Linked DNA regions of Homo sapiens: regions 1 and 2 are each reported to be linked to region 3. Evidence: microRNA targets listed by miRTarBase, many of them from high-throughput screens and not tested one by one. Region 3 holds a microRNA gene; each other region holds the end of a gene's coding sequence.

The links. The annotated mature microRNA hsa-miR-2052 reads UGUUUUGAUAACAGUAAUGU and lies in region 3 at 2,407-2,426, opposite strand. An mRNA with a match to its seed (bases 2 to 7 or 8) in the 3' UTR can be bound and repressed. Matches are read on the target gene's strand: a 7mer-m8 pairs with bases 2 to 8, a 7mer-A1 pairs with bases 2 to 7 and ends in A, and an 8mer does both.
Region 1: miRTarBase lists STXBP4 as a target of hsa-miR-2052. Seed matches in the 3' UTR shown: 7mer-A1 at 2,160-2,166 and 8mer at 53-60.
Region 2: miRTarBase lists NEMP2 as a target of hsa-miR-2052. Seed matches in the 3' UTR shown: 7mer-A1 at 1,883-1,889 and 7mer-A1 at 3,918-3,924.

Annotation. Positions count from the first base shown.
Region 1 is chr17:55,159,467-55,163,714 of GRCh38, reverse strand. It overlaps STXBP4 (syntaxin binding protein 4), which reads right to left. Exons shown (of 18, transcript NM_178509.6): 18 at 1-3,918. The coding sequence ends at 3,804. Among named protein-coding and RNA genes, the nearest start is that of HLF, 100 kb to the left of the region's middle.
Region 2 is chr2:190,505,632-190,509,879 of GRCh38, reverse strand. NEMP2 (nuclear envelope integral membrane protein 2) reads left to right here. Exons shown (of 9, transcript NM_001142645.2): 9 at 568-4,248. The coding sequence ends at 691. Among named protein-coding and RNA genes, the nearest start is that of NEMP2, 27 kb to the left of the region's middle.
Region 3 is chr8:74,703,872-74,708,119 of GRCh38, reverse strand. It overlaps MIR2052 (microRNA 2052), which reads right to left and starts at 2,427; the gene lies at 2,373-2,427. All of the region lies in intron 4 of MIR2052HG (MIR2052 host gene), which reads right to left.

The DNA of each region.
Region 1 (4,248 bases), not on the chromosome of region 3:
TTGTTTAGGGGGAAAAAAAAGAAAGAAAAATGGTTTTAGACTATGAGCTCCTTGTTTTGAGAATCAGTACCATTTAGCCTCATAGCATGCAAATTTCACATTTTGCCTGGCATGTAGCAGGTGCTCAGGAAGTGTTTGCTGAGTTGAACTGGTTTGAGAAAAGGCAAGGGATTACTATCCTTATTATTCAGATAGGGAAAGTGAGGCCCAAAGAACTCGAAGATGCATTTGTATTGTGCTTGGTACTTTAGTGAACGTCTCACCCAAGTTAGCTCATTTGAAAGTTGGTCCTCGCAACCATTACATGTAAAGTAGGAAAAGAGAAGAGTAATGATGTGTTTGACATATAGTGAGTTAGTCACTACTTGACTTCCCTCTATACAGCAAGTCAGTCTCTGCTGCTAAAGGAAATCTAAAACCTAATGATTAAAAATCTCAGGTTCTTGGACTTGGTGGAAGGAAGGTTATTCTTCCAAGGACAAAAAAAAAAAAAAAACCCAGAAAATCTATAGGAACATTTGGACTAAAAAAAGTCCTATCATACATAAAAATAAGGCTCACATACACTATTGGTGGTAATGTAAGTTGGTCCTACTTTTATGGAGAATTTATGGATATGTACCAAAATTAAAATGAATGTAACTTTGACCTAGCTTTGATCAAGAAATTTATGAATGTATTCACACTATAGACATACTAGCACAAGAGTGCAAAGATACATGAGGAAAAGGATTTAATGAATATATAAATGTTCACTGTGACATTGTTAGCAATAAGAAAACTTAAAACATTTTAGTGTTCAATAAATTGCTGGCCACACAAATTATAGGTTATGTGGGTAGTGATATTTTATGTAGACATTTGAAATAAAAGATTAATCTATGTATTGACATGAAAAGATGACCACAACATAACATGTCAAAACCAAGCTGCTTAATAGTGTGATTTCCTTTGAGTAAAATCACTCACCACAGTATTAGTGACTGCTACCTCTGGAAAGTGAGACAGGCTATCTCTTACTTTATTCACTTCCAAAGTACTTGATTTTTTTTAAATAAAATAGATTAGTTTTAAAATTCAAAAATTAAGAAGCAGCTGTTTAGTCCTGGCCACACACAAACTCTTTTGTTGTTTTTTTTTTTTTAAATCAAGAGTAAGTGGAACCCAGGAAATGATTAGCAATTGTTCTACTTCACCACAGTGTTTAGCACAGTGCTTGTGACATTGTTGGTGCTCAATAAATATTTTGAGGGAATGAGTGAGTAAGGATGAGTCAACTTGGGCACTCTAGTAAAGTGAGACGGAAGGACATAAGAACATTCAGATTTTCTAACCCTAAAATCCAAGCCAGTGAGTCAATGAAGACTTCGTGATGACCACATTGCTACGGTTGATTGATGTTAAAGAAAGACTGGCTACTCGCCAAAACATAATATGAGGGTCGTATTTGCACTGGAAAAGGATTCTTGCTAAGCCCTGACCATGCTTTTTTGAGCATCTCTTATGGCACCGACCTGATGGTTTAGAAGTCACGGAAGCTTTATGAAGAGGGAATCTGAGAGAGTGGCCAACTGGTTCAGTCCATTCACACACTGAACCTCCTCAGCAACATTCCCCAAGTAAGGAATTCAGATTGCTGGGATAGTGTTTCCATTTTCTCCTGGGGAATTCTTTTCTTATCAGCTCTAATTACTAGAAAGTTCCTTATGACACTGAACTAGAATCTGCCTTTTTATAAAATGTACCCATAGACAATGAATCTAAGCAGTTCTCCATAGTGGTTTAGAGAACAGCTTCTGGAATCACAGATCTGCCTTGAACCCTAGCTTCTACACATAGGTGCTTTGTGACCCTTAGGCAAAGATTACTAACTCTCTAAAACTAAGTTTTTTCTTTTAGAATTGGGGATAATTACAGTTCCTATTTCATGGAATGGTTTTAAGAAGATCATAAATAAATATATGCAAACTGCTCATCACCATGTATGGCACAAAATGCCCAATAAATAATATCATTACAATTGTTTAGGCCTTTTTCACTAGGTATTTGACAGAAACAGGGCGGCAAGTGGTACAAAACAGCAGTTAATGGATGAGGTGTCTCTTGTCAGTGGGCTGTGTGCCTGAGTACTTTGATTTCAGTGACTCAAGCACCTTCTTTGTTTTGCTCACTAGAAACGAATTAGAAAACTCTTCAAGCAGGGGGAGAGAAATTTCATACCATTAATTTGACAAAAACAAGAAGTTTGTACTTTCACAATTATAGACACTAACTTATAGAATACCTCATTCACCTCTGGGGGGTGCAAGGAAATAGCTCCCTCTGGGGCTTCTCTCAAAACTTGTCTCCCCGAAGCTTCCTAACATTCAAATGGCTGTCAGGCAAAACACAAGTCTTCCCTAGCCATCCTGAAACATTTCTCATGGCTAATGACTACCTATCAGTCTGGAGTTGACTTTATATTATTACTCAAGACATAAATCACAAATCCTAAATGGATTCAGGAATGTATAGTTGAGCACAATGTATATGTATATCTTTACCATATAAATCTGTATTATACACCATATGAAATTCAGTAGACTAGGAGACTTAAGATCTCAGTTTACTCAACTATAAAATGGCTACAATGAATGGTTCTTAGACTATGTTCTAAGGACCTCTAGGTCTGCACAGCAGTGCTGGGAGCTGCTCGACTTGGGCTTTAGGCTTCCATCTTGTTTCGAGTAGAGCAGTAATGTTTTAACAGATACCTCTCTTCTCATCAGCTCCCCTCAAACCATCCCTCTGGGAAGGGCAACCTAAGCAGGACAAACCATGCCTTTCACTTTAGAAAAACACGAGCTGCTGAAAGAAGTCTGCTGAAACAATATCACAAAGAGTGCGCCTACTTGGCGAAGGCTTGGGTGCAGAGAAGGGGGAAGGGTTTATAGGAGAAGAATAGTGGGGTTATAGAGGGGCCATGTTTGACCGAAGAGGTGCCTTCTGAATCTCTGTGGAATGCACAGCTGTGGAGCCAGCTGCATCAACACAATCACAGTGTCCTGCGTGATGGGCTGTGACCTCCCTCCGTGGAGACAGCAGGGTATGGGGGAAGGGGGACTGCTCATGGAATCAGAAGACTTAGGAGTGAGTCTCGGTGCTGGGACAGAGAGCTTCCTCTCTCTGAACTGCTATTTCCCTACTGAAAACCAAGAATAAACATACCCACCAGATCAGCTTCACGGGCATGTTGTATGGTTTAAAGACAATGGGGTCTACAAAGCATTTTGTAAATTAGAAAGCTCCACAAAGATACCAGCTGTATTCATCAGCCCATGAGATGTCTAAATGTGATCCTTAAATTCCAAAAAGCTTGCTAAGTTCACTTTCCTAATATATGAATATAAAACATTAGTGAATTATCAAATAAATGAGGTGTTTCATTATGTTCATATACTTTTTCAATATGTCAATTATAAAAACCATTGTATCTGAGACCCTATGAAGAACTACATATGAAATTACAAAGAAAGATCTAATTATATATGAAAAAGTATATATATTATAAAGTCTAATTATATGTGATTTCAAAAAATATAACTAGATTATTCTTAAGGAACTACTGTAGTGGCAATTGATTTTTTAAATGTATACAGAAATATCAAAAGTTTTACAAAAATACCCAAAGTCCAGAGTCTCCATTTCACACTTCAACAAGTAGTGCATGCTTTACTCCTATTTTAGACTGTTTCATCTCAGAATTGGATGTTATGCGTCTCTGCTCACATCATCCATGTAGCTCCACTTCCTAAGGAAAACCATCAACTTTTCTGGTTGGGGAGTTCTCTAGAGCAATCCTCTTCATTCTCCTCTGAGCGAGATAGATTCAGGACACTCATCACGGGATGGATCCAGGATGTAGTCTGTGTTACATGACTTGAGAAGAACAAGAATGCAATTAGAATCTGAAAGACTGTCCTTCTACTCATCCATGCAAGTACTGATCCTGGTGACATTGCTTCTACCCTAGTAAAGTCCCTGTGATAGGAAGCAGTTAGAACTAGATCCAATAGCTTTAATAAGTCTTAGACACATTTTAAGCTTCAATGAAAACCATTTCTTTCTTTCTTCTTTGGTTAAAAAGGAATGCAGGTGAATGCAGCATCTCTAACTCCTTTCGTTTCAGTATCTGACATTCAGTAAGTCAGCAAGTCCAATGACTGCCTTGCTGTAACATCTCTGGAATCTGTTTCTTGCTCTCCTTTT
Region 2 (4,248 bases), not on the chromosome of region 3:
TTTCAGTAGAGATGGGGTTTCACCATGTTGGTCAGGCTGGTCTCTAACTCCTGACCTCGTGATCTGCCTGCCTTGGCCTCCCAAAGTGCTGGGATTACAGGCATGAGCCACCGCACCCAGCTGGAAAATCATTTTTAAAGTTCACTAAGAAAGACGTCTGTCCCAAAATTTTTCCTTATTGCTTTCTCTTCCTCATAACTTTATCCAAATAACAGTGCCCTCAAATTAAAGATGGAAGGGGGAAGTATTTGAAACAAAATAATGAATAATAATAAATTCAAACTAATAAAAAATAGAGACAAGAAGGAATTAGAAAACAGGAGTGAGTACATTTGGCTTACTTAGTGCTTATATATCTGCCCTAATTCTCTGCCCTTTCCATGAATAGCTGTTTTTAGAGGGATCACATAAGCCATTCCCATTTTTACACCCACTGTGTAAATGCCACCCTGTATTGATGCAAAGTCAAATTTAATTAAAGGGGATAAATAGCAAGGGAACATGTTATCTTTCAAATAAACCTTCCTGAGATAACATTAACTTTATTTAAAACAAAAAACTTGTTAGATTTGCAGACTTTGTTCTTGGAGGAAGCCACTTGTCACCTGAAGAAATCAGTCTGCATGAAGAGCAGTATGGCCTTGGGGGTGCCTTCTTGGAAGAGCAGCTCTTTAACCCGAGTACTGCCTGACATGCGACCTTCAAGTTGACTTCATTCTGGACAAGGAAGTGGGCAAAGGGCAGGGATTCTATTAAAGTTAGGCAGAACTGTTCTAGTGAACGGTGGCAAAAACATTTGCTGTGGAGAAAAACAAGTCAGTCTGGAAAGGGAAACCAACCCATTTTGAAGATAACTTAGCATTCTTGGTGACTTCTGCTACTTATTGTACTGTAGGTGGATACCAAAATTCTGTGACAGCCACTACCACTTACCTTGAATGAAGGCTTTCATTAGGAACAGGGGAATGGCGTTGTTCTTAAGGGGCTAGTAAGCATGAACAGGTGCTTTGTCGACACCAGGGCACTAAATCTGGTCTTAATCCCCTGAACCTGTGTCAGAAGACTCTGCAATACTCTTCCTATAGTTCGTCAGTATAAGTCCTTAAAGAGACCTGAGACATGCTGGACCAGTGTTTTCCAAAGTACAGCTCACAGGCTACTACCAAGTGTTGGTCAATAAAGGTATTCTGAGGTCAACTAAGATTGATATAAAGTTAAACTAATGTATTTCAGTATCTCTCAGAGGCATTCATAATGCTCGTGTGCACTGTGAATCTCCCAAAGGGGAGAAATTGTGTGCTGCAGTTTCTTGCTTAATTTGACCACAGAACTCTTTTTCATGAGATTAATATTCCTTGGAACACGTTTGGAAAATGCTAATGGTGGTGGAACTGAGCTCATGAGAGGTTAAATAACTTGTGCAAGACCACACTGAGATGCAGCACTGGTAGAAATCCAGCCCTGATGTATCCTTTGACTCAGGTAGACAAGATCTTCAGGTGCAAGCTTAGGAGCCATCTCCCTACAGCCATGGGCCTCACAATGTTGGTGGCTTTACTTTTTATTTTTCAATAATGGCCAACTTGCTATTTAACTGTGATAAAGGGAAATGTTTCTGAAGACATTTTAAAGTTTTTTATACATACGTAAGATTTTTATATACATACGTAAGGATTAGATACTATGATTACTTTTTTTGTATTTTGAAATTGAAGGCACTTAAGCTCTTGTGATATTTTGAATTGACTGATCCATTTAAAAAATTGTTTAGCTATAGGTGTTTGTAACAATTTCTTATAAAATGATTTTTTTTCTTGATTCATGATATTAAACTCCAGATTGAAATGAGGGGCTATGAGCTTTGACCCTGAGGAAAGAAGGCCAAAACATAGATCTGAGGAAAGATTTGAACATGGCAAGACAATCTCAGGGTTAAGATGTTGCTAAGTTGATTCTGAGAATCAAAATCAGGCTTTTTTTCCTGTGATGGGATCATAAAAATAATCTTTTTATCAGGACAAAGGTTATGGGCGAAGGATAGACAGAATTTTGGCACTGCTGCTTTCCTGAGCCAAATTAAGTAGTTTTTCTAAATCATGAAAAAAGAGCATGACTATCCATCTGGAACTTCCTAGATTGATTTTCAAATGATAGTTCCTCTTTGAAGTATTTACAGGTCTGTTTTTGCCAGACATCTTTTCATACTGGGAACTTTTTTTTTTGTAATATCCACTAAAGTTAATCTGCCTTTATATAGACTTGGATTTTTAAAAAACCAAAGGATATATTTTCCATTCAGATTTATGGTAACTATTTTATGAGTAAATAGAAGTTTGAATATTTTTCTTATGGTTTAATCTGTTTTTTTAAATTATATTTATTGGTGATATAAATGTATCAGATGTATCAGTGCCTGTGCTCACCAAGTTCGTCTCCTAAGAAGCAGTTTGTGTGCTACAACGTATGCGTATGAGTAAATAACACATGAACAATCTGCTGGGGCTGCCAGGTACATCCCAGCCAGGACAGCCGCTGGGCCAGGGGGAAGAGGTACTGCTGAGGGAAGGAAGCAGCTCTTCATGGGCAGCTAGCCAGGTGTAACCATCACAGTAAAAACAGCCAAAGAGAGAAGAACAACAGCAGTCCTTGAGGATATTGTTTTCCATGTTTATTTTTAGAGGAAATCATAGGTTTGTCAGTTTCTGCTTTGTGACTACTGTGAGAAGCTAAACAATTAGAAGCATTACTTGTGATATTTTTAGTGTATTTATGTTGTTTTCATTTGATTTGGGGGTGTATTATAGTACTGATCACAATTCTAATCCCCATCAAGCAATGTACAGATAACTCTTCCAAGAAATGTTTCCCTCCTTTCTTTCCTCCCTTCCCTTCTCTTTCTCCCTCACCTCCTGTCTCCTCTCCTCCTCCCTTTTTAAAGGCCTTTGAACAGTTTAAACGACCACTCAATAAAATGGCTCTGCCCTTCACAGGTGGTTGGAAGTTGGCTTTGTGCCTCACACACCATAGGTGTATAATTATGGAGCCTAACAGATCCCTTTGTTATTTTACTGCTTATGCTTGGTGCCTACAAAAGCTTACTGTTGTTAGCAAGTTGAACTCTTTGACACCAGATGTGTGGGTGAGATATAGTGTAGGTGGCTATGCTTAAACAATCGTATCATTCAAGTGTTATTTTTAAAAGGTTTTAAAACACATTTTACATATCACAAAAAATGCTTTGTGAATTAGTTGTATGGTTTGCCAGTAATACCTAGGGCTGAATTACAGGGGAATGTCCATCTGACATGAAGGACAATATTTCAATTTATGACTTTTTAAAAAAATCTGGAAATTTCATATATTTAGATTTTAAGAGGGTTTGGAATAGATGATGGATTACATAAAAATATCTAAATATGTGGAGGAATTAAGATCCTGAAATGATGTCAACTAAAGAAATGCTCTCTTACATTATGCTATGTGTGATTGTTTCCCAGAGTGAGAGATGTACAATTTTATAAATTAGCTTTTCTTGTCCAACTGAAAGCAAGATAGACAACATAATGGATGTGGAAGTTTGAAGACACCTGCAGGAAGACAGAGAGGTACTTTTAGGTGACAACAGGAGCAAGCTGCCTTCTGAGAGAGCCTGCTGGGTGGCATGACATTGAAGAGTGAACTATTTGGGTGTGACTGTTAGCCTTATTGACTTAGAACCCTGCTTTTTGTTATTGCACCATAAGACCTGTCTCTTGTTAGTCAATTCATATAGTTGGTACAGGTAGTGATTCACAACCAAAAATATAACTAGCATAAGGATAAAAACACTTGACTTGATATGACCAGCAGATTCTCTCTCAGAAGACAGATTTACAAGGGGTCAAATTATAATAAGGTGGCTACTTGGTGAACTGAAACAAAACAAAGGGAGCTTGTTATATAATTCACATGGTTAATGTCATGAGGCCAAAGAGTTTGATGCAGATGCCACCCCCCACCCCAGTGGGGCTAGCCTTGTTAATGGGATGAGATACCAGGTCTGTTGACAAAGACCACGCCTTCCTTTATGCAGGTCCTGCCAACTTTTTCCTCTCTGTGACTGCTGTTTTTCTAATCTTCATTATTGACAAACATCCCACCCCCTCTGATGGGCATATTTTTACTCAGATGTGTTAAAATCTTTAGTCTTTCTCTGGCCTAGGAGTTGGATTATCTTTTAAAGGTAACTGTATTTTTTTTGTTATGATC
Region 3 (4,248 bases):
CCCTGGAGCAAAATGGCTCACAGATAGAGAAAGCCGAAGACTCTCTATTGAAGAACTTCCTCTAGGTCTTCCTCTTTACTTTTTTTAACTTTTAATGGGGGAGTTCCATTTCCATTTGGAACTTAGACAAAGTTCTTTCATCTTGTCTTCTTCCAAGGAGAGTTCTTTTCACTGTTTGCATCATAAAGACATCCATCCTCAAGGATATTATAAGCACCTCCTGGGTGCCTTTGTAAAGACTACGTGGATCCCTTAATTAGTTAATCCATCATCATCTCCGGTTGATTTATTTAATATTATCTCAAACATCAGAGAATTGCTTGTTTCTCACAAAAATTGTCCATTCTTTCTCTGGTATCTTCTAACTTCTGTAAGCAACAATGTCCACTCAACAGTTTAACTGAAATTACAGACAAGCCTTAATAAGCAGACAATGTCTCATACATAAAAACACTCCAGGAGCATCTGGACTGGAATTTTGCCCAGTTAAGTGACAGTTTATGAAAATAGCCCAATAGCCCCAGTTGCAGTTAAAAAAAAAGTCCAAAGACTACAAAGAGTTGCATACTATCAGGGCACAAATCCATAAAACTGGTTGCAACATTGTGGCTAGAAAAAGAATATTTTGAGTGACTAAACAAGAAAATGAATTCTGGTTGCTTAACCTGTCTGACTTTGTAGCTTTCTTGATACCTTTCAGACTCTACCATATCGATACTATCCTAATTGCTTGTATGTATTTTATTTTTATTTCACAGACTTTGTATTTATAACAGTGGCTATCACTCTGTCAGCATGGGTGTATTCTGAAGAAGACTTTCAGCCTCTCCTGGGCAGATGTGGCCATTAGACTCAATCGGTTTTAAAATTATTTCCAACCTCAAACACTCAATGTAACAATATAGCACCCAGCAGTGCCTCACATATTTAGATCAGATGGTAAGAGCTTTCAGGTGACGACAGATATCTACATGGGAGGGAATTTTAACTCACAAATTCTCTGATTCAAACACTGACTGTGCATCACAGGCTTAGAATGTAGTTATTTTATAAATATTGAATTTTCACTAGTCACATTGACAAACACCATAATTAGAAAATGCAATAGTGGGATGTGATGAAATTCTGTGGTACTCTTTTTATTTCTTAACCAATACATTTTAGAAAAGTGCATTTGACCTAAAATGGGCACGCCTCACCCGTGTGCATCCACTTCACGCACTTGCAAATCCTCCCCAACGACTTCATTTCTGCCTAGAAGCAGAATATGCCCTTCCCCGCCAAGAAGCTTGTGAAAAAAAATTTTCTGAGAGCTGTCCAGTCCATATACTAAGAATTCATTTTCCAGTTTTTACATGTATAAATAGATTAGTAATTGTTTTCAGGTTTTCTTATTTTTACAATTGGTTAAGCATGGATTTTGCTGTCTGCACATCTTTAAGAAGTCATCTTTTATACTACACAAACACTATGGTTTTCTTTACCTGCTCTCGTTGCCAGCAAATGAAACAATGATACAAGAGAACTGGAGACCAAGGAGGCCCCTCGTGCTCTGGTTCGTGCAAGAACCAACATTGCACATAATCTTGGGAGTTGGACTAACACTGGCAGCTCCTGAATTTCGCTATAGAAAGGACTTAGGAGTGAGAAGGTTTTTGGAAGTGAACGCTAATTAATTTGCCTGGAAGCTACATTACAGAGCAAGCACACTTGATTTTACTTAGATTACTTAGATTGTAAATTTATGAGGGATGACTTAGAGGGGGTTGCTCATGGAGATTTATGAAGGGACAAAACTCCCTCTTCCCCAAGTGCTATACCTTGGCAATGCCACTGCTAATGTTCTCAGAAGTACAACTACTCAAGTCTGTGTTTATTTAATAAATGAAAGTCAGGTCATGTCCATTGCCCACCCACACTGTTCTGCAATTTCATATTTCCTTGTGAAATGACTTGGAGGTTCAAGCTGGATCCTGCCCTGGCTCTGACGCCAGACAATAATACTTCCTGCTCAAACCTCATACCAACTGCAGAGCAGAACTGCTTTGCTGAACAGTTAACACATGTGATGGAGTGATTCTGTATTTTACTTTAATAGATACTTAATTTCTATTACCCTGTCTCCTTGATGTGTCGTCTTTTAGAATTTTATTTCCTTCTAACACAATTTTTCTAATGATATCTTAGTTGTAGGGATATAAACAGCATATGATATTTTTTTTCCCGAACATTTCAGAAGTTTAGTTTTTTTCTGATTTCTGCTTGCTATCCATGGGCCTAGTTTTATCGTAAATATATTTTTATTTGGAGTCAGTTACACTAGAATCTGCTTCTCTGTAAGGGAAAGGAGTTAGTCTGCTATGGACTGCAACTTGTTTTGATAGCTGGTAACTTTGAACTAAAGGGACATTACTGTTATCAAAACAGCAACCAGCTTTTCTTGGAAGTAGAAACTGACATGGTCTTTTTTTCCCCCTTCTTTCTGCCTAAGGTCGTATCCCTTGACTACAAGCACCATCTCTATGTTTTACTGAAGGCTTTTCCCTTTCAAATCTCACAGGCCAACTATAGAAAGATCAGACTCTTGGTCAGAGTCCTCAAAAGGAAACAGTCTGGGGCATCAAAAGGCCATAAATTCAGCCAGAGTAGTGGTATTTGGAAACGACCTTAAGTATCAATCTTAGAATGAAAATATATGACTTTTACATCCAGTTCAATTTTTGAGGTTATTTACTTTTTAGAGAGGCTGAAGAGAAAGGGTTAGTACATCAACTTTCAACCTGAAACATATGGAAGAACGTTAAATACTTTTAATTTTACTAGAAAAAAAAATGTCTGCAAAGTATTTTAACTGAGTGGGTTTTGGCAAACATAAAAACTCAATTAAATAATTTTTTCCTATGAAACTTTTGGCATGTCCCTAAACTGGGTTTTCTTGTAATATTGTCTGAATTAGAAATCAAAATTGAGACAGACATTAACAGTAGTCAATCAAACTCTGATGCAAAAGTTGCCCCATTTAGTGGAAGATCCTGACATCCTGACATCTTCCACTGGAAAAAAAAAAAAGAAAGAATAAAAGTAAAGGAAGTTCAGCTGAGCTGCTATACCATCATGACCAGTGCAACTTTCAATAATGATGTGGCCCTATGCTTTAGAGCACAGTGATATTATTCACAGTTAACTTCTGGACATGTTTTAACAATACAATTATCCTGCCATGCTTATCCTAACCATTGAAAGAGGATAGTTTGTGAAGATTGCAATGTTAAACTTGATATGTTGCCAATATGTATTTTTCTCCTCTGCCTCCTGAAGTTCTTCCAAAATTTCCTTAAATGAAATGTTTATCAAGTCAAAAAAGATAAACCATTTGGGAGATCTCAGTAGATGAAACATTTCAACCAAGTTTTGGAAGATGAGAAGTGTAGGAGAGAGATTACTGAGGTAGCTGAGTGACAGCACTGTAATTCTAAGTGCAGTTATCCCCACTTTGGGATCCTGAGGAGAATAAAGTTGATTCACCCTGAAGAAATCCCAGAGAGGCCTGTAGGCATCAGATTTAGTAAAAAGAAAAAGGGGAAAGTCTGAGGGCTGAGGATAGGAGGAATGGAAGTCTATATGAAAAAGAAATTGCTGGATCTCCTATGGCCAGATGACTACTACCCTCCTGACACCTCCCAGGAGATCATAGTTTTATTCTCTGTAGTTAGTGCCTGGAAAGACTCCATCTATCTTTGGCACACATGGATGTTAGTGAGGCAAGAAGCATAAAACTATTGCATGTGTCCCTTGGTCACTTCCTCAAGATGCACTGTCCCGAAGGAACAACCAAGCATTGATCACATGCCAATGCTCTCATTGCCAAGAAGTATAGAAAGAAAATATTTGTCTCTTAAGGCCTTCTTTAGTGGGGAAAGGACCTCTGCTTTCCAGTAACTTCCACACATTGCAGATACCCACGAAAAGAAATAAATTTTAGAAAATTAATAGAAAAAAAATCACAGATCTATTCCCATATAGATATATGTTTCCCATTAGCCAGATGTTCCCTTCCTCCTATTCTTACCTTTCCCTCAAAAGAGTTACCACCCTACTCAAATATCCCTTTTACAACCCAAAATATAACTACTCCTCTCCAAAAGTAGGCAATCCATAGTCTGATAAATTACTAAATTCCTCCAAGTACAGGATCTCCACTTATTGTAATATGGTAGCACCGGTGCTTATCAGTGCTACCTGATGGGT